Regions from separate parts of the Homo sapiens genome. Here region 2 is linked to region 1. The links come from fine-mapping of genetic effects on gene expression. A gene starts in region 1. The other region holds a variant in brackets. All regions are shown on one strand. Distances are from middle to middle.

Region 1 (9,541 bases):
CATATGCAACTTCAATTCCTAGCACACACCAAGTTCTTCTTTGAATCAAGACCTTTATACCACCTTTCTTTCTATCTGGATTCCTTCCCATCCCCTTCCCTTCCTTTTAGTTCTCCGGGTTAAGTGCTGCCTCCTTTGAGAGAGCTTCCGGGACAGCCTTATATGTATTCTCCTTTGTCACTCTCCATTGTAGTACACGGTGCACAATCACAGCCTGTCATTATTTTACTTATTCACTTGTTTGCTTCAGCCTAGCCAATTTGATGAAACCCCATCTCTACCAAAAATACAAAAATTAGGCCGGGCGCGGTGGCTCACACCTGTAATCCCAGCACTTTGGGAGGCTGAGGCAGGCGGACCACCTGAGGTTGGGAGTTTGAGACCAACCTGGACAACATGGAGAAACCCTGTCTCTACTAAAAAATACAAAATTAGCCAGGCATGGTGGCGCATGCCTGTAATCCCAGCTAATCGGGAGGCTGAGGCAGGAGAATCGCTTGAACCCAGGAGGCGGAGGTTGCGGTGAGCCGAGATCGTGCCATCGCACTCCAGCCTGGGCAAAAAGAGCGAAACTCCGTCTCAAAAAATATATATATATGTATACAAAAATTAGCCAGGCGTGGTGATCCACATTTGTAATCCCAGCTACTTGGGAGGCTGAGGCAAGAGAATCATTTGAACCCAGAAGGCGGAGGTTGCAGTGAGCCGAGATCATGCCACTGCACTCCAGCCTGGGCAATGGAGCGAGACTGCATCTCAAAAAAAGAAAAAAAAAAGAATAATATATATACATATAAAATATATCTATTTATTTTTCTTATTTTTTGGAAATGAAGTCTTGCTCTTGTCCCCCAGGCTGGAGTGCAGTGGTGCGATCTCAGCTCACTGCAACCTCCGCCTCCCGGGTTCAAGCGATTCTCCTGCCTCAGCCTCCCAAGTAGCTGGGATTACAGGCTATTGCCACCACCCCCAGCTAAGTTTTGTATTTTTAGTAGAGACGGGTTTTCTCCACATTGGTCAGGCTGGTCTCAAACTCCCAACCTCAGGTGATCCGCCCACCTCAGCCTCCCAAAATGCTGGGATTACAGGCATGAGCCACTGCGCCCAGACATATATTTTTTTTAAGACACAGTCTCACTCTGTCACCTAGGCTGGAGTGTAATGGCACAATCACAGCTTACCACAGCTTCAAGCTCCTGGGCCGAGGTGATCCTCCCATCTCAGCCTCCCGAGTAGCTAAGGCTCCAGGCGCCTGCCACAATGCCTGGCTAATTTTTGTATTTTTTTAAGGCATGAGGGTCTCAGGATGTTGTTCAGGCTGGTGTCAAACTCCTGGTTTCAAGCAATCCTCCCATGTCAGCCTTCAAGTATACATATCTTTGGCCAGGCACAGTGGCTCACACATGTAATTCTAGCACTTTGGGAGGCCAAGACAGGCAGATCACCTGAGGTCAGGAGTTCAAGACCAGCCTGGCCAAATGGCAAAACCCCGTCTTTGCTAAAAATACAAAATTTGGCCAGGCCTGGTGGCGCTCGCCTGTAATCCCAGCTACTTGGGAGGCCAAGGCAGGAGAATCGCTTGAATCTGGGAGACAGAGGAGGAGGTGGAGGCTGCAGCGAGCCGAGACGGCGCCACTGCACTCCAACCTGGGCAACAGAGTGAGACTCCATCTAAAAAAAAAAAAAAAGTATACATATCTTCAAACCATATTAGATTATAAACTCACTCTAGTAAGTATAGACATTCTTTGTCAAAGAATGCCAAAAACAGAGACATATACTATGACACTTACTTTGAAACTTTCTGACAGAGACCTAGACTAAGAGATTCCTTTTATAGATAACACATGGATACATAGACGGGAACACCACACACTGGTGCCTATCAGAGTTGGGTGGGAGCGGGGAGAGGGTCAGGAAAAATAACTAATGGGGACTATGCTTAATACCTGGGTGATGAAATAATCTGTACAACAAACCCCTGTGACATGAGTTTCCCTATATAACAAACCTGCACATGTACCCTTGAACTTAAAAGTTAAAAGAGATACATTTTACATCACTGTCTGGTAAATATATACATACACATGAACATATTTATGTGCATGTCATGAAACAATACAAACTCTCAGCTATATTTTCTAATTTTCTATTATATTCTATTTCATTTTCTTTCTTTTTTTTTTTTTTTTTGGAGACAGAGTCTTGCTGTGTCGCCCAGGCTAGGGTGCAGTGGCGCGATCTCAGCTCACTGCAAGTTCCACCTCCCAGGTTCACGTCATTCTCCTGACTCAGCCTCCCGAGTAGCTGGGACTACAGGGGCCACCATACCCGGCTAATTTTTTGTATTTTTAGTAGAGACAGGGTTTCACCGTTTTAGCCAGGATGGTCTCGATCTCCTGATCTCGTGATCCGCCTGCCTGGGCCTCCCAAAGTGCTGGGATTACAGGCATGAGCCACTGCGCCCGGCCTCTATTTCATTTTCTACTACAACTCCTGACCCACTAAACTGATTTAACAATCCACTAATTTGTTAAACCTGGAGTTTGAAAACACTGCTCTTCAGGATTTAGCATAGTGCTCTTCACGTACTCTGTAAATGTGCTGAATACGTCAACTTAACTCTCCAATTCTTCATTTGGTCTTGGCAATTATTATTATTCATCCCATAAAGCCAACAGTTAAAAGATTTTTACAAAAGTAACCACTGTTCATAAAGAAAACCTAAATGTTAGTATTCTGAGTAATCTTTTCTTCAGCTATTGGGTTTATCTGAAATGTGCTTACGTGACAGCCTGGGGGCGAACCACAACTCCACCAGTACAACGACTGGGTCTTCTTGGGGAATCTGTAGCCATAGCTTCATTCATAAAACCTGTTTCCAGAACAAACAAACAAACAAAAAACAGAAAAACATGGATCGTTGTTGGGGGTAGGGAGGAAGATTTATGATTACTCACTAGAGATCCCTTGTCAAAAATGCCTCAAATGTAGGAAACTTTCCCAGAAATTCCTGTTACACCAGAAAGGGAAAAAAGGAGGAAGTAGGTTTTTAATTTTTTTCAAATTATAATGAGGGGTTTGGGGGGTTATTATTATTTTTGAGATAGAGTCTCGCTCTGTCGCCCAGGCTGGAGTTCAGTGGCACGATCTCTGCTCATGGCAATCTCCGCCTCCCAGGCTCAAGCAATTCTCCTGCCTCAGCCTCCTGAGTAGCTGGGATTACAGGCGAGCGCCACCATGCCGAGCTAAATTTTATATTTTTTTGTAGCGACGGGGTTTCACCATGTTGCCAAGGCTGGTCTCGAACTCCTGAGCTCAAGCAATCCATCCGCCTTAGCCTCCCAAAGTGCTGGGATTATAGGCTTGAGCCACCGCGCCCATCCTGTTTTGTTTTTTAATAGGACCAGGTCTCAGAACCACAAAACAATGTAAGGAAGACTCCTGCTGTACCCCTTGGTCTGTTGTTAACATAAATTACAAGGGTGAGAGAACCAGATCATGGGATGGGAATTTACTGCAATTTTATGTTGAGATAGTGAAAATACACATGGTACAATATTTCAAGACCAAACGGAACAAGTGACATGATATCACTCTACCTTCCAATTAAACCTGTTGGGAATCTATGAGTAAATCACAATTTAAATCACATTCGTAACCCCCTGCTACTATAACAAATAAGTCAAGTAATTATTTGACTAGTAGCAAGTAGTCAAATAACTAACATAAACTAATACGTTGTTACAGCCCTTTACCCTTTCCCGTCACATCAGTAAATCCTGATCCTAGAATGTTTCATGACCCTCTGAATCACTGAGATTTTAAGAGCATGGAGTCGGCTTGGTTAAGGTTAAAAGAGGACTGACAGCAATATCAAAGATCTCTTACAGGGCTCAGGGAAGCCCACAACCTGGAACTCATCTTGAAGGCACCGAAAACCATTTTTAAGTAGGGAGCATTCACACCTGATGTGAAAACTCTAAACCTGTGCGCCCCACCTCCTACAACCAAAACACCCTCTGCCCCAAGGAGCAGAGCCACCACCTCCTCAGAGGATACCTGCACCTCCAGCCCCTCAGCCCTCTCATTCTCATCCCATTCTTGCTTTCTCGAACCACAGTCTCCCAAGCCCTGCCCTTTAAGGGCCCTGTCTCCTGGGGACGACCCTCGCCAGCCACTCAGGCCCCAGTCTCCTGAAAGACACTCGTACGGCGCTGCCCACTTAACCTCCAACACGGAGCCACCGCTGCCCCCGGCCGCCCTCCGGCCCCTTGCACTGTTCCCCTCCCCCTCCAGTATCGACACCTCTCTCCTGTCGAATTCCTGCCAGCCCGACCCAGTCCCCTCACGCCGCCAGTCCCTCGTCCTCCCCAAGCCTCCCCAAAGCCAAAGCCCTGCCAGCCCTCTCACCGGCCGCCCCGCCGGTTAACGCTAGTCTCCAGCTCTAGGCTCACTGTTTGGAGTCTCCCCGAGTGATTGACGGCAGCCACTTCCTACCACGCCTCAGCGGAACCACCCCCTCTAGCCAATCCCAGAAGCAAACCGGCTATGGCCGGGCACCGCCCTTGGAGGTCAGCTTCGCCAACCAGCAAGTAGGAAAGAGGCGGACCCGCCTTCTGAATGTGTCCAATCCGCTGGGGCTGGAGGGAAAACACAACAGCATGTAAGTTCGGGTGAAGCCGAGGTGTCAGGTTCGGTTGCAAACGCAGGCAGCTGGGGAATAATTACGAACATGTACATTTTTTTTGGAAGACAGAACCTTCGTGGCTTTGAAAAGAAAAGCAACATGATCCAGACTCCTGTCCCGCTCACGTGAGCGTTTCAGGTTGGAGCCGGAGGACAGGGAGACTGGTCTGTTTACATCGAATTCTCGCGACAGCTGGTTCCAAGCTCGGAGCACGTGGACATGGCAGCTGCCAATCACTTTTAGCTGGCCACTCACCCGTCCCACACCCGCCTTCTGCCCAGCCCTTGGCGATGTGTTTACCTTCCGGGAGCCTAGGCTGGCTCGCGCCGGCGATCAGCCGAGGAGGGGTTGATCTGAATAAGGGGCACGGCCGGTAATCTCAACAATTTGAGCTAGGTTTGTAGACCACTTCTTGCTTCAGTTTCCATCTCCCTTATTGTTGAAGATCGAGATCTCGCCATTGTCATTTCATCAGTTCATTTATTAATATAAGTAGAATAATACTGACTGACTTCTTGAACACTCAGCACAGGCCTTCGTATACTTCATATACAATACTCTAATGTATTATCAAATTTAATGCCAATGACAGGTCCGTGAGGGTATAGCTTATTAACAGGCGTGGTGGGCTGGGCGTGGTGGCTCACGCCTGCAATCCCAACATTTTGGGAAGCCTAGGCGGGAAGATCGCTTGAGGCCAGGAGTTCTAGAACAGCCTGGACAACATGAAGAAACCCCGTCTCTACTAAAAATAGCCAGGTGTGGTGGCCAATGCCTGTAATCCTAGCTACTGGGGAGGCTGAGGCGGAAGAATTGCTTGAACCCAGGAGGCGGAGATTGCAGTGAGCCTATAGATCACGCCATTGCCCTCCAGCACTTTAGCCTGGGTGACAGAGAGTCCCTCTCAAGACAGATAGATAGATAGATAGATAGATAGATAGATAGATAGATAGATACATACATACATACATACATACATACATACATACATACATACATAAAATTTTAAAAAATTTTAAAAAAAGAAATGAAAGAAAAGGCCGGGCACGGTGGCTCACACCTGTAATCCCAGCACTTTGGGAGGCTGAGAGGGGCAGATCACTTGAGGTCAGGAGGTCAAGACCAGCCTTGCCAACTTTGTGAAACTCTGTCTCTACTAAAAATACAAAAATCAGCGGGTTTTGATGGTGCACGCCTGTAATCCCAACTACTCAGGAGGCTGAGGCAGGAGAATCGCTTGAATCCGAGATGTGAAGGTTGCAGTGAGCCGAGATCGTGCAACTGCACTCCAGCCTCTGGGCGACAGAGCAAAACTCTCGCTCAAAAAAAAAAAAAGAAGAAGAAGAAGAAGAAGAATATATTTGGAAATATTGAAATAACTTGATAATGTGGGATTGAAATAACTTGATAATGTGGAATTGTAACATTGAAAAGGAGGCCTAGCATGACTAACTCCATTTTGCTCCTAAACTCCCCACTCCCACCCATCGGTGATATCTAAGTTAACTGCTTTTGCTTATCTCTGCACATAGACTAAGCTAACCAAGGGAGGAATTTATAGTTTAACTTTAAAGCAAGGATGATAATAGTCCCTTCCCAAAACTAACCCCCAAGGAGAAAAGGAGGGTGTACACACAAGTAACAATGTTGAGAGTTTGAGAAAGTATTGTGACCTGACCAGTAACAGAGAGGCTTCAGGCCTCGAGGAACCCTTGCTGGCGCCCAGATGTCTACGGTCATCAGTCACCCCTTGATTCAAACCCTCTCTTCTTCCCCCTGCCCTTAACACAAAAAGAGCCTGAAATGTGTACTAACTTAAGATGGTTCTTCAGGCTGGGTGTGATGGCTCACACCTCTCATCCCAGCACTTTGGGAGGCCGAAATAGGTGGATCACCTGAGATCAGGAGTTCAAGACCAGACTGACCAACATGGAGAAACCCCGTCTCTACTAAAAATACAAAAATTAGCTGGACGTGGTGGTGTGCGCCTGTAGTCCCAGCTACTCGGGAGGCTGGGACAGGAGAATCACTTAAACCCGGGAGGTGGAGGTTGCAGTGAGCCAAGATCAAGGCACTGCACTCCAGCCTGGGCGACAGAGCAAGACTCCAACTTTTTTTTTTTTTTGAGATGGAGTCTCACTGTGTCACCAGGCTGGAGTGCAGTGTCTCAATCTTGGCTCACTGCAACGTCCACCTCGCGGGTTAAAGCGATTCTTCTGCCTCGGCATCCTGAGTAGCTGGGATTACAGGCACCCGCCACCACTCCTGGCTAATTCTTTGCATTTTTAGTAGTGACGGGGTTTCACCATTTTGGCCAGGCTGGTCTTGAACTCCTGACTTCATGTTCCACCCGCCCTGGCCTCCCAAAGTGCTGGAATTACAGGCGTGAGCCACCATGCCCAGCCAAAAAGATGGTTCTTTAGTACATTATTCTGCAATTTTCCGGGTTTGCTAGCTCTCAGAAATAAAGTTACTATCCTTGCTCTAACTCCTTGACTCTTCACCCCTTGGCTGTCATGCAGTGAGCAGAACAAGTTAGGACTCGGTTACAGGATGAAGGTGAGAGGTGAAGCCAGCTGGACTTCCTGGGTAGAGTGGGGACTTGGAGAACTTTTCTGTCTTAGGAGAGGATTGTAAAACACACCAGTCAGCACTCTGTAGCTAGGATTGGAAAACGCACCAATCAGCACTCTGTAGCTAGCAAGGGGATTGTAAGGTGCACCAATCAGCACTCTGTAGCTAGCAAGGGGATTGTAAAATGCACCATTCAGTGATCTGTAAAAACGCACCAATCAACGCTCTGTAGCTAGCAAGAGGATTGTAAAATGCACCAATCAGCACTCTGTAAAATGCACCAATCAGTGCTCTGTAAAATGCACCAATCAGTGCTCTGTAAAACGTACCAATCAGCAGGAGTCTAAAAGCCAATCGTGGGGAAGATTGAAGAAAGGGCACTGTGCTAGGACAGAAACGGAACATGGGCGGGGACAATAAGGGAATAAAAGCTGGCCACTCCCCCCAGCAGCGGCAACCTGCTCCAGGCCCCTTCCACTCTGTGGAAAGCTAAAAGCTTTGTTGTTTCCTTCTTTACAATAAATCTTGCTGCTGCTCATTCTTTGGGTCCATGCCACCTTTAAGAGCTATAACACTCAACGAGAAGGTCCTCGGCTTCGTTCTTGAAGTCAGACCACGAATCCACCGGAAGGAACCAACTCCGGACCCAAAGGGAAAGAATCAAGGATGTTCAAATCCAAGAAACCTTAAAGGTGTTAGAGGAAAAAAAAAAAAGATGTTTTCTGTGTTTTGGGCTTGATCAGCTGAGTGGTGCCATTTACAAATAGGATGAACACTAGCTGAGTTTTACATTTCTTGGTAAATTTCTGTGCCTTCATTGTTTCATCCTTTGTAAATTGTAGAAGGAATAATATGGGCGGGGCGCGGTGGCTCAGGCCTGTAATCCCAACACGTTGGGAGGCCGAGGAGGGCGGATCATGAGGTCAGGAGATCGAAACCATCCTAATGGTGAAACTCCATCTCTACTAAAAATACAAAAAATTAGCCAGGCGTGGTGGCTGGCGCTTGTAGTCCCAGCTACTCGGTAGGCTGAGGCAGAGAATGGCGAGAACCTGGGAGGCAGAGCTTGCAGTGAGCCGAGATCGCGCCACTGCACTCCAGCCTGGGCAACAGAGCAAGACTCCGTCTCCAAAAAAAAAAGAATATTATGAGCCTCATAGGCTTTCTTTTTAGCAGGGGCGTCAGAGGGGGGCAGTTTTGCTGTTACCCAGGCTGGTGTGCAGTAGTGCAATCATAGCTCACTGCAACCTCCAACTCCTCGGCTCATGTGATCCTCCCACCTCAGCCTCCTAAGTAGCTGGGTTTACAGGCACACACCAACATGCTGGCTAATTAAAAAATTTTTTTCTGTAGAGACAGGGCCTCCCTATGTTGCCCAGGCTGATCTTGAACTCCGGAGCTCAAGTGATTCTCCCATCTCAGCCTCCCAAAGTGCTGGGATTACAGGTGTGAACCACTGCACCCGACCCCATAGGCTTTTTATGACTAAATAAGTTTTTTTTTCTTTTTTTTTTTTCTTTTGAGACAGAGTCTCACTCTGTCACCTAAGCTGGAGTGCAGTGGCACGATGTGGGCTCACTGCAACCTCCACCTCCCGAGTTAAAGCAGTTCTTTTTGCCTCAGCCTCCTGAGTAGCTGGGACTACAGGTGTGCACCACCATGCCTGGCTAATTTTTGTATTTTTAGTAGAGACGGGGTTTCACCATATTGGCCAGGCTGGTCTGGTTTCACCATATTGGCCAGGCTGGTCTGGAACTCCTCATCTCGTGATCTGCCTGACTCGGCCTCCCAAAGTGCTGGGATTACAGACGTGAGCCACCACTGCGCCTGGCCATTTTTTCTTTCTTTCTTTTTTTTTTTTTTTTTTTTGAGACAGAGTGTCAGTCTGTCTCCCAGGCTGGAGTGCAGTGACACAATCATAGCTCACTGCTACCTTGACTTCCCAGACTCAAGTGATCCTCCCACCTCAGCCTCCTGAGTAGCTGGGACGGCAGACCTGCACCACCACTCCTGGTAATTTTTGTATTTTTTATTTTCTTTTTCTTTTTTTCTCTTTCTTTTTTTTTTTTTTTAATTTAGACAGTCTTTGCACTGTCGTCTGAGCTGGAGTGCAGTGGTGCAATCTCGGTTCACTGCAACCTCCGTGTCCCGGGTTCAAGCAATTCTTCTGCGTCAGCCTCCCGAGTAGCTGGGATTACAGGCGCCCACTACCACATCCAGCTAATGTTTTGTATTTTTAGTAGAGACAGGGTTTCCCCATGTTGGCCAGGCTGGTGT
Region 2 (9,541 bases), 570 kb before region 1:
AACACGAGAAAAAGAATTTTCCCTTAGATCAGTTAAGGGAAAACTCTTCCATTCTGTAGCTTTTGTATTGGCGTTCCTAAAACAAACTATTTCTTCAGCCAGAGACACAATTCTATGTTGGGACACTAGAGTCCATCTCTGCTGTTGAGATCTCTCTCCTTCAGATTTTAGCAATATAGTTTTGGGTGTGTTTCATGACCTTTTGTGCTAGCAAATAAGCCTTTGGAGGATTAAAATTAACTTTTCTCATCCTAGTTTAAGGAGTGCTCTGCTCTGGGAACATCAAAAAAAGGCACAGGCCTGAACTGAGCCAAATACCCACTCTAGCAGTGCTGGTATTATTTTCAAGTTTCTATTTTATTTTATTTATTTATTTTTGAGATGGAGTTTCACTCTTGTTGCCCAGGCTGGAGTGCAGTGGTGTGATCTCGGCTCACTGCAGCCTCTGCCTCCTGGGTTCAAGTGATTCTCCTGCCTCAGCCTCCCGAGTAGCTGGGATTACAGGCACCCGCCACCATTCCCGGCTAATTTTTTGTATTTTTAGTAGAGATGGGGTTTCACCATGTTGGCCAGGCTGGTCTCAAACTCCTCACCTCAGGGGATCTACCTGCCTCGGCCTCCCAAAGTTCTGGGATTACAGGCGTGAGCCACCAAGCCCAGCCAAGTTTCTTATTTTAAAAACAAATTTTTGCAGGAATAGTAGAATACACAGGAAAAGAATATATATTCATCTAAACAACGTCTTATCTTTAAGAGCAAAGAAGAAGGAAGTTTTATAAGTATTTGACAGTATACTACTTCTTTAAGATACTCCAAGTGGTTTGAAGTGTAAAAGGTGAATATACTGCTTCAAACCTCTTGACCTACAGGTCTAAAATAGTCGCTCATCTTGTCCTATGTGTCCTAGTACAGACTAAATAGAATATTCAAAGAAGTCCTGGTATCATTTGTGTTAGGGGCCTTAAAAATCAGGCTATCAGGGTTGGTCATCTGCCACAAAGCTGGCTAAATTCCCACCATGATACACTTCTGAAATAACCATTCAGGACTGAGGTCACTGCTACTTCCTCCCTGCTGAGGAAGCACAAACCAGACAAATTCTCACCAGATGGACTTTGCACTCTAATCTTGTATATTACCCCTCCTCCCAAGGCCCAAGGCTCTCTGGGAATTCATGCCAGGCTGGGACTTAGACCTTCAACTGCCAGTATCTTTACGAGTTGTTTTCTTTGAAAGACCTGAGAAATGGGTTGCAATAATCATAGGAATGGTCCTTTAGATTTTCTTTTTGGAATTTTTTAAAGTAGTATCAGCCACAATTCACAAATATATTCCTTTACCCAAGACAGAAAACATAGAGACAAATTATGTTAAACCATCCAATCCAACTCAGAAGAAAAAATCAGGCCTTTATGTGCTCCAGTCTTCAGAAGGACTCAAATAGGGTACCACCTACAAAAGAGATAGGATCAGAAGAAGTTCCCTTGGTGGCTTTGTTGGGGAAAGGATCCAAGAAGTGCTCAGAAAAGCAGAAAGCTCTCCAAAAGAAGCTAATTCAAAAGAGATTTCCAAGTCAACATCCAAACCAAAGAGATGTGGAAAAATTCAGAAAAGCATCCTAACAAAACATCCCAACAAAGTACCCCAACTCCTTTTTGTAAACCCACAACTGGTAGGAACAAAGTTCCAATGTGACAGCCTTTCAATGCCGCAAGTTGTAACCACAAGTGCGGCTGCTCTTCTAACATTATTTTCTTTGGGAAAATTACATGGGTGGGTAGGGAAGCAAACCCAAGAGGACTGCAGTTTACAAGGCCTGAGGCCTGGTTGGTGAGATCCAAGGAACCTAGAGGCGGGGGCCTGATGGTAGATAGGAGAAAACTAAGCTGATTGCACAAAAGGGCTAAGATCTCCAGCCACTCATCAGGTAGAGTATGCTGCTCTCTACTTGCAAAACTGCTTAATAAAATTTTACTGCCAAGTCAAAAGAAGAAACATCTGCTGTAGTCAAGAGCAGCTGTGGTCGGCAATAAGGGACTTGGCACATGGTCAATGCTGCTCTTGCTGGTAGGTGGTATTGTGGTCACCAGTAATTACTTTGGAGAATTTCATGGAGTCAAGGATAACTAAATGGACAAAGAACATTTTATTTTACTTTCTATCTTTAGCCCAAGAGCAAAAATCGTGACATGTACAGAATTCAGAAGCCCAATGAATCCATACTTTTTGTGGCAGAACTTTTTACCTCAAAGACTAGAAATACTTAAATATAAGTATTTTAAACAATATATTTTTGATAAGTGACCTCTCCACTCATTATTTCTGATTGAACGGTTCCTGAAGATTATACTAGTTTTCAAGTGTTTTCCTTCTGAAAGATGTATTATAGAATACTATAAGAAAAATGTGAAAATTATACTTAGCAAATCAATAAATGGTTCAGGTTTTTAAAAACCTCATCTTTATCAAATTTGCATGCTATCGTCAAAGTTAAATAACTTTACATTGAGTAGGAATTGGAGTGTAAATAAAAGTCTGATGTATTCATCTGTGATAATTTCTCATGGAATGATGAATGTCAGAAAGTAGCAGTGAAATTAATATACACTGTACTTAAAAAATTAAACACTTGGGAAATAACCCTTTGAGCCACTGGAAAATGATAAAGTCTAAGACATTTCAATCAAGTTAATTTCGGTACTAAAGCAATGCATTTTTCCCACCAGAAACTATATGAAAAAACAAATTAAACAAAATGGGTCTCCGAATGATGGGATAACATCAGGCTCATGGAAAACATCATGATTGCTTTGTCAATTAGGTTATCACACACATACACACACACACACACACACACACACACACACACACACTCTCACTCAAAGGCAAAACTACCCATATTCATTTTAAATCATGTCAAGGCTGAATGGTTGATATTGTATTAAAACAAAAGCATGACTTGCATTTTAATAAAGAAAAGGAAATTCTCTTGACAACCAACAGAGCTAACTTGTAGCAACTGGTCTAATTCCAGTACACAGGCTCCAGTGATGCCGTGTCAGGTGCCACCCCTAGCCTACACCTAACACCAAGGCTCCTACATTGACTTCTGGTTGGTTGCGGAAGTAAAAGGAGAGACCTAGGGGACTGGGGGAAACAACATAAATCTTTTTTTTTTTTTTTTTTTTTTTTTTCTGAGACAGTCTTGCTCTGTTACCCAGGCTGGTGTGCAGTGGCACCATCTCGAGTCTTAGCAACCTCTGCTTCTGTGGTCCTCTCGCCTCAGCCTCCTCAATAGCTGGGACTACAGGCACATGCCACCATGACTGGCTAATTTTTGTATTTTTTGTAGAGATGGGGTTTCGTCATGTTGCCCAGGCTGGTCTTGAACTCCTGGACTCAAGCCATCTGCCTGCCTCAGCCTCCCAAAGTGCTGGGATTACAAGCGTGAGCCACTGTACCCGGCCATAGCAACCTATTTAAAAGCTATTCCTGACTTGACCATCTCCAGAAAGCCATCTTAGATCAGTTATGAGGTCGTGATAGTTGTAAGACTCTCCCAGGATAGAAGAGAATTCCTGTCAGTGTGTGAGGTAGGCCAAATCTGGGTGTTAGAAGGCAGAATTCTAAAGTCTCAGCCCTCCCAATCACTGTGGAACCCTGGGTGGATCACCTGAGCTCTCACAGCTTCAGTTTTATTCACGTTAGGGGAGGTGACCTTCCAGCTTCAGCCTCACGCTGAGTGCACCAATAATGGACCCCTGGATTCTGAAGAGCTGCCCATCAGCTCCACAGCCTTCCTGACCTTGCACTAGGCAGTAGGTACCTCCACTCAACAACAATCTCTTTTTTTTTCTTTCAATGAGACAGAACTTCATTAACATGAAAAAGAAGTACTAAATGTAGGTGCTCCCTTAGGAACTGCTTTTTCTGAGAGCCCAATAGCTCATCTTGTTATGTTAAAGCCTACCATCTGAAACCACTTGAATGTTAGGCAGGGAGGTACTTCTACAACTTTGATTTGAACATATACAATTTTTCTACCAAAGAGAAAAACTAATTGACACATTGTTTGGAAACAACTTTTCACTTTTTAAAATGAACAGT[T/G]TTATACAGCTCAATAATATTTGCTTAAATACTTCCTAAAATTAAGCCGAGTGTGGTAGTACATGCCTGTAGTACCAGCTTCTCGGGGGGCTGAGGTGAGAGGATCACTTGAGCCCAGGAGTTGAATCCAGCCTTGGCAACATAACAAGACCCTGTCTCTAAAAAATAAATAAAAATAAATACTTACTGATATCGTTTGGCTGTGTCTCCACCCAAATCTCATCTTGACTTGTAGTTCCCATAATCCCCATGTGTCCTGGGAGGGACCAGGTGGAGATAATTGAATCATGGGGGCAGTTTCCCCATCCTGTTCTTGTTTTAGTGAGTTGGTTCTCACGAGATCTGATGGTTTTCTAAGGGGCTTCCCCCTTCACTGGGCACTCATTCTTCTCTCTGCAACCACGTGAAGAAGGACGTGTTTGCTTCCCCTTCCGCCACGATTTTAAGTTTCCTGAGGCCTCCCCAGCCATGCAGAACAGTGAGTCCATTAAACCTCTTTCCTTTATAAATTACCCAGTCTCGGCTATGTCCTTACAGCAGCGTGAGAATGGACTGATACACTTACTAAAATTATAGTCTATTACACCACATTTAGAAAGATGAATAATGAAATCACAAAATACTATGCAATTGCAGTTAAATCTTTAAAAAATTGCTCCTTCCCTATATATCCTTTTTTATTTATTTATTTTTTTTGAGACGGAGTCTCACTCTGTTGCTCAGGCTGGGGTACAGTGGCGCGATCTCGGCTCACTGCAAGCTCTGCCTCCTGGGTTCATGCCATTCTCCTGCCTCATTCTCCCAAGTAACTGGGACTACAGGTGCCCACCACCACGCCCTGCTAATTTTTTGTATTTTTAGTAGAGATGAAGTTTCACCGTGTTAGCCAGGATGGTCTCGATCTCCTGACCTCGTGATCCGCCCGCTTTGGCCTCCCAAAGTGCTGGGATTACAGGCATGAGCCACCGCGCCGGGCCTATATATCCAATTTTTAAAAATATAGACTGAATAAAGTATGTGAGATTTGGGTAATTTTAACAGTAAATTAAAATAATACTCTGAATTTTACCTATTGTTATTCTTTTGTAACACATATTTTTGTTGACTTCTAGTCACCCTGTTTCCAAACTGTCTTTGTTCATGATATTCACAATATAGTGCTAAGTAAAAAAGCAAAGGAAAACACATTCATTACTGGACAGGTAAGACTCATTACCTAATGGTAAATAAGCTCAGTGTGATTTCATTTTACAAACAATAGCGTATATATGTGTGTATACAAATGCATAGAAGAATCTTAATAAATACCATAATGTTAATAGTTGTTAACTGTAGGTAAGGAAATTACAAGTGATTTTAGTTTTCTTTTTTCTTCTGTTTTTTCTTAAGCTTTTTAAATAATAAATATGTATTACTTGAGTTAAAAAAAGAGGTTTAAAAATGCTTTAATTTGACATATTATTCTTTTAAAACTTGAAGTAATTAGCATATTAAAACTCATCCCTTTGGGAGGCTGAGACAGGGAGAATCACTTGAGGCCAGGAGTTCAGGACCAGCTGGGGCAACATAGCAAGACTCTGTCTCTTGAAAAAAAAAACTTAAAAAATTAGCAGGTTGTGGTAGTGCACACTGATATTCCCAGCTACTTGGGAGGCCCAGGTGGGAGGGCTGCTTGAGCCTAGGAGTTTGAGGCTGCAGAGACCTATGGTCATACCAGCGCACTCCAGCCTGGTTGACAGAGCAGATTCCAACTCTTTAGGAAAGAACCAAAACACTCATCCCTCAACTACATAAAATAGTTATAAGTTATTATTTTCCCTGAAGTCTCTAGCAGTCACTTCGTCCATGATGGATATTTCTGGCAGGGAACTGTGCTACATGAAGGAAGTGAATGAAAGTCCTGAAAATCAGGATAATGGTGATTACCCTTGATTCAATCAAACTGTACTCAATTCTAAGTCTTCTTATACTGTCTTTATATTTTCTTGAGACACACTTATGACATTCCTCAAAAAATTAAAAATAAAACCACCATATGACCCAGCAGTCCCACTGCTGGGTGTATATATCAAAAGGAACTGAAATGTGGATCTCGAAGAGGTATCTCCACTTCACTGTATGGAACGTTCACTGTAGCATTATGCACAATAGTCAAGATGTAGAAGCAAACTAAATGTCCATCCATGAATGAATGGATAAAGAAAATATAGTATATAGACACAATGGAATATTACTCAGCTTTAAATAAGAAAGAGATTCTGCCAGAGCAGCAGGTAACTTTTGGAGGTGATGGATAGGTATATACGTATCTCCATACTCATCACAGTGTAGACATTAAATGTGTATAGCAGTAGGGCGCAGTGGCTCATGCCTGTAATCCCAGCACTTTGGGAGGCCGTGGCGGGCGGATCACGAGGTCAGGAGATGGAGGCCATCTTGGCCAACATGGTGAAACCCCATCTCTACTAAAAATACAAAAATTAGATGGGTGTGGTGGTGCGCGCCTGTAGTCCCAGCTACTTGGGAGGCTGAGGCAGGAGAATTGCTTGAACCCAAGAGGCAGAGGTTGCAGTGAGCCGAGATCGCACCATTGCACTCCAACCTGGTGACATGGTGACAGAGCAAGACTCCGTCTCAAAAAAAAAAAAAGTGTATAGCTTTTTGTATGTCAATCATATCTCAATAAAGTTTTTTGGGTTTTTTTGTTTTTTTTTAAAGAATTCCATTTGGAAGAAATTGGTGTTAATTCATGAAGGCAGTGAAGGAGGCAATAATCTTTAGAGAACTGTGATAAGCTGTGATCACTATTACTTCAATTCAACATTGGCTCAGAAAAAGAATAAACTTATGTAAGCAAAAACAAGGCTGACTGGTAGAAGATAGGCTCTGGACATATATTTTCCCTTAGCTTCTTAAATTCCAGACTCTTTGAATCTTATGAGATTTTAACCACAGGTTCTGCCATAGCTTTTTGCAAATTTGCATTCAGTGATGTCCTTCTAAATGGGAGAAGGGTCTAGGCATCACAGGCGGGTCTTGTCACGTCTAAAGGATCTCATATGAAGGGAGGAGGGCTACACTCTATGCCTAGCAACATTAACCAAACGTGTATTTGGTCTAAAATAGACTTCCAAGTTACTCAAACCTCACTATAAATATGTGTTTTAAGGTACTGTGAGACTTGTCAAAGGGCTAACCAGCACACATCTCAAGGTCTCCTTTAGGTCAGACCCTGATATTTACACTGTCTTCCTGATGTTTGGATTTTTTTTTTTTTTTTTTGAGACAGAGTTTCACATTTGCTGCCCAGGATGGAGTGCAATGGTGCAATCCTGGCTCACTGCAACCTCCACCTTCCAGGTTCAAGCAATTCTCTTGCCTCAGCCTCCTGAGTAGCTGGGATTACTGGCATGCGCCACCACGCCCAGTTAATTTTGTATTTTTAGTAGAGACGGGGTTTCTCCATGTTGGTCAGGCTGGTTTCGAATTCCCAACCTCAGGTGATCTGCCCGCCTCGGCCTCCCAAAGTGCTGGAATTACAGGTGTGAGCCACCACACCCAGCCAATGTTTGGATTCTTTACCTTGGATAACAAGAGCCATTTCTGGTCCCAGATATACTTAACACTGAGAAATGATTCCTCTTTAGTAAACAACAAACAAACAAGAAAAAACCTGAATATTATACTATTATGAAAGCTCTCAGATTTCTCAGAAACATTTAACATTTATTCAACAAAATTTTATTTTACATGTTAAATGATGTTAGTAGAGAAAAAATAGGTAAGTACATTTTTTAGACTCATTTTACCTCCAAACTATTATTCTTATTATTATTTTTTGAGATGGAGTCTCCCTCTGTTGCCCAGGCTGGAGTGCACTGGCACGATCTCGGCTCACTGCAAGCTCTGGCTCCTGGGTTCACGCCATTTTCCTGCCTCATCCTCCCGAGTAGCTGGGACTACAGGCACCCGCCACCACGGCCGGCTAATTTTTTTTTGTAATTTTTTTTTAGTAGAGGTGGGGTTTCACCGTGTTAGCGAGGATGGTCTTGATCTCCTGACCTCGTGATCCGCCTGCCTCGGCCTCCCAAAGTGTTGGGATTACAGGGGTGAGCCACTGCGCAGGCCCAAACTATTATTTTATTAAGCTTATTTACTTTGACTTCTCTTTCATCATTAGCATAAACAGTTGGCTAAGGTGTGTGTGTTTTAAGTCACAAGATGAAACAAGCAGAGGACAACAGAGCCAAAGGAAGACGTGGGTACTTGGTGGTAAACAGGCTCACTCACTAGCTTCATCACTTGCTAAGCTAAATACCAACCTACAAATTCGTAGTAATAACAGAGTCCTCACTGACTTTTGCAATCACATTCAAATAGTCAAGCCTCTAATATTAAATCCACATATTCAGTGTGCCCACTATATGAGGGTCCCCCAAAGAAAGCTTAACTGTATTGTAATTGCTATTCAGAGTCTTTTGAAGGGTAAGTGATGGAGAGTGAGAACTGAGGGGGCGGAAGCTCTAGAAGGTTTCTCATGGCAAAAATCCTGTCATGCCCAAACAAGAGAAAGCTCCCCAGTAAGAGTGGCATATTGAAATCTAATCAAAAGCCTAAACTATTTTTGTCTTTGATTTCATCAAATCATTCTAAGAATAACAGCCCTTGGTACCTTTTAAAAATGCTTCTTTTCGGGAAGAAAGTTTTAGTTAAGATATACTTCTGTGTGTCTGAGATCAATTTAAAAGAAATGGACCCTTTAGTTATAGGGCTCAATGATATAGGTAAATGAATCTGTTCTAGTGAATAACATAAAATCTGTTTTAAACTTTTTAGTGTATGTGTGCTAAGGCTGATAAGTCTCAGATAAATGTCAGCTACACTTGTTCCTTTTTATTATTTATTTATTGAGATGGAGTCTCTGTTGCCTAGGCTGGAGTGCAGTGGCACAATCTCAGCTCACTGCAACCTCTGCTTCCTGAGTTCAAGCGATTCTCCTGCCTCAGCCTCCAGAGTAGCTGGGATTACAGGCGTGCGCCACCACGCCTGGCTATTTTTTTTTGTATTTTTAGTAGAGATGGGGTTTCACCATGTTGGCCAGGCTGGTCTCAAACTCCTGGCCTCAAGTGATCCACCCGCCTTAGCCTCCCAAAGTGCTGGGGTTACAGGTGTGACCCACTGTGCTTGGCCCCACTTGTTCCTTTTTAATATCATGGTATAGTGAAAAGAATATGGACCTTGGAATCAGAGAAACCTGAGTTCAAAGCCTGTCCCTACCACTTATCTTCTCTTAGGCTGTTTTTGAATCTGTGAAATAAAAATACTATTCTACCCGCCAGGATGGTTGTAAGTAGAAGAAATTATGTCTGTAGAGTGCCTAGAGGAGTGCCTATGATAGAGCAGGCATTCAATAAATGGTAGCTCCTCCTCCTGC

What was found. PIP is the estimated chance that this variant, and not a neighbour inherited with it, causes the effect. A credible set is the group of variants that fine-mapping cannot tell apart.
Region 2: its variant is the best candidate, but not a certain one, in a credible set for the expression of BCAS3 in testis (GTEx, PIP 0.75).

What each region holds. Positions count from the first base shown.
Region 1 is chr17:60,672,787-60,682,327 of GRCh38, reverse strand. It overlaps BCAS3 (BCAS3 microtubule associated cell migration factor), which reads right to left and starts at 4,477. Exons shown (of 24, transcript NM_017679.5): 1 at 4,414-4,477; 2 at 2,788-2,875. The coding sequence starts at 2,870. RefSeq lists enhancers at 4,436-4,585, 4,756-4,925 and a silencer at 4,344-5,097.
Region 2 is chr17:61,240,125-61,249,665 of GRCh38, reverse strand. The region is part of intron 22 of BCAS3 (BCAS3 microtubule associated cell migration factor); the gene reads right to left. Among named protein-coding and RNA genes, the nearest start is that of BCAS3-AS1, 110 kb to the right of the region's middle. RefSeq lists enhancers at 3,415-3,940, 3,941-4,466. The variant T/G (reference allele first, on the strand shown) is at 4,108.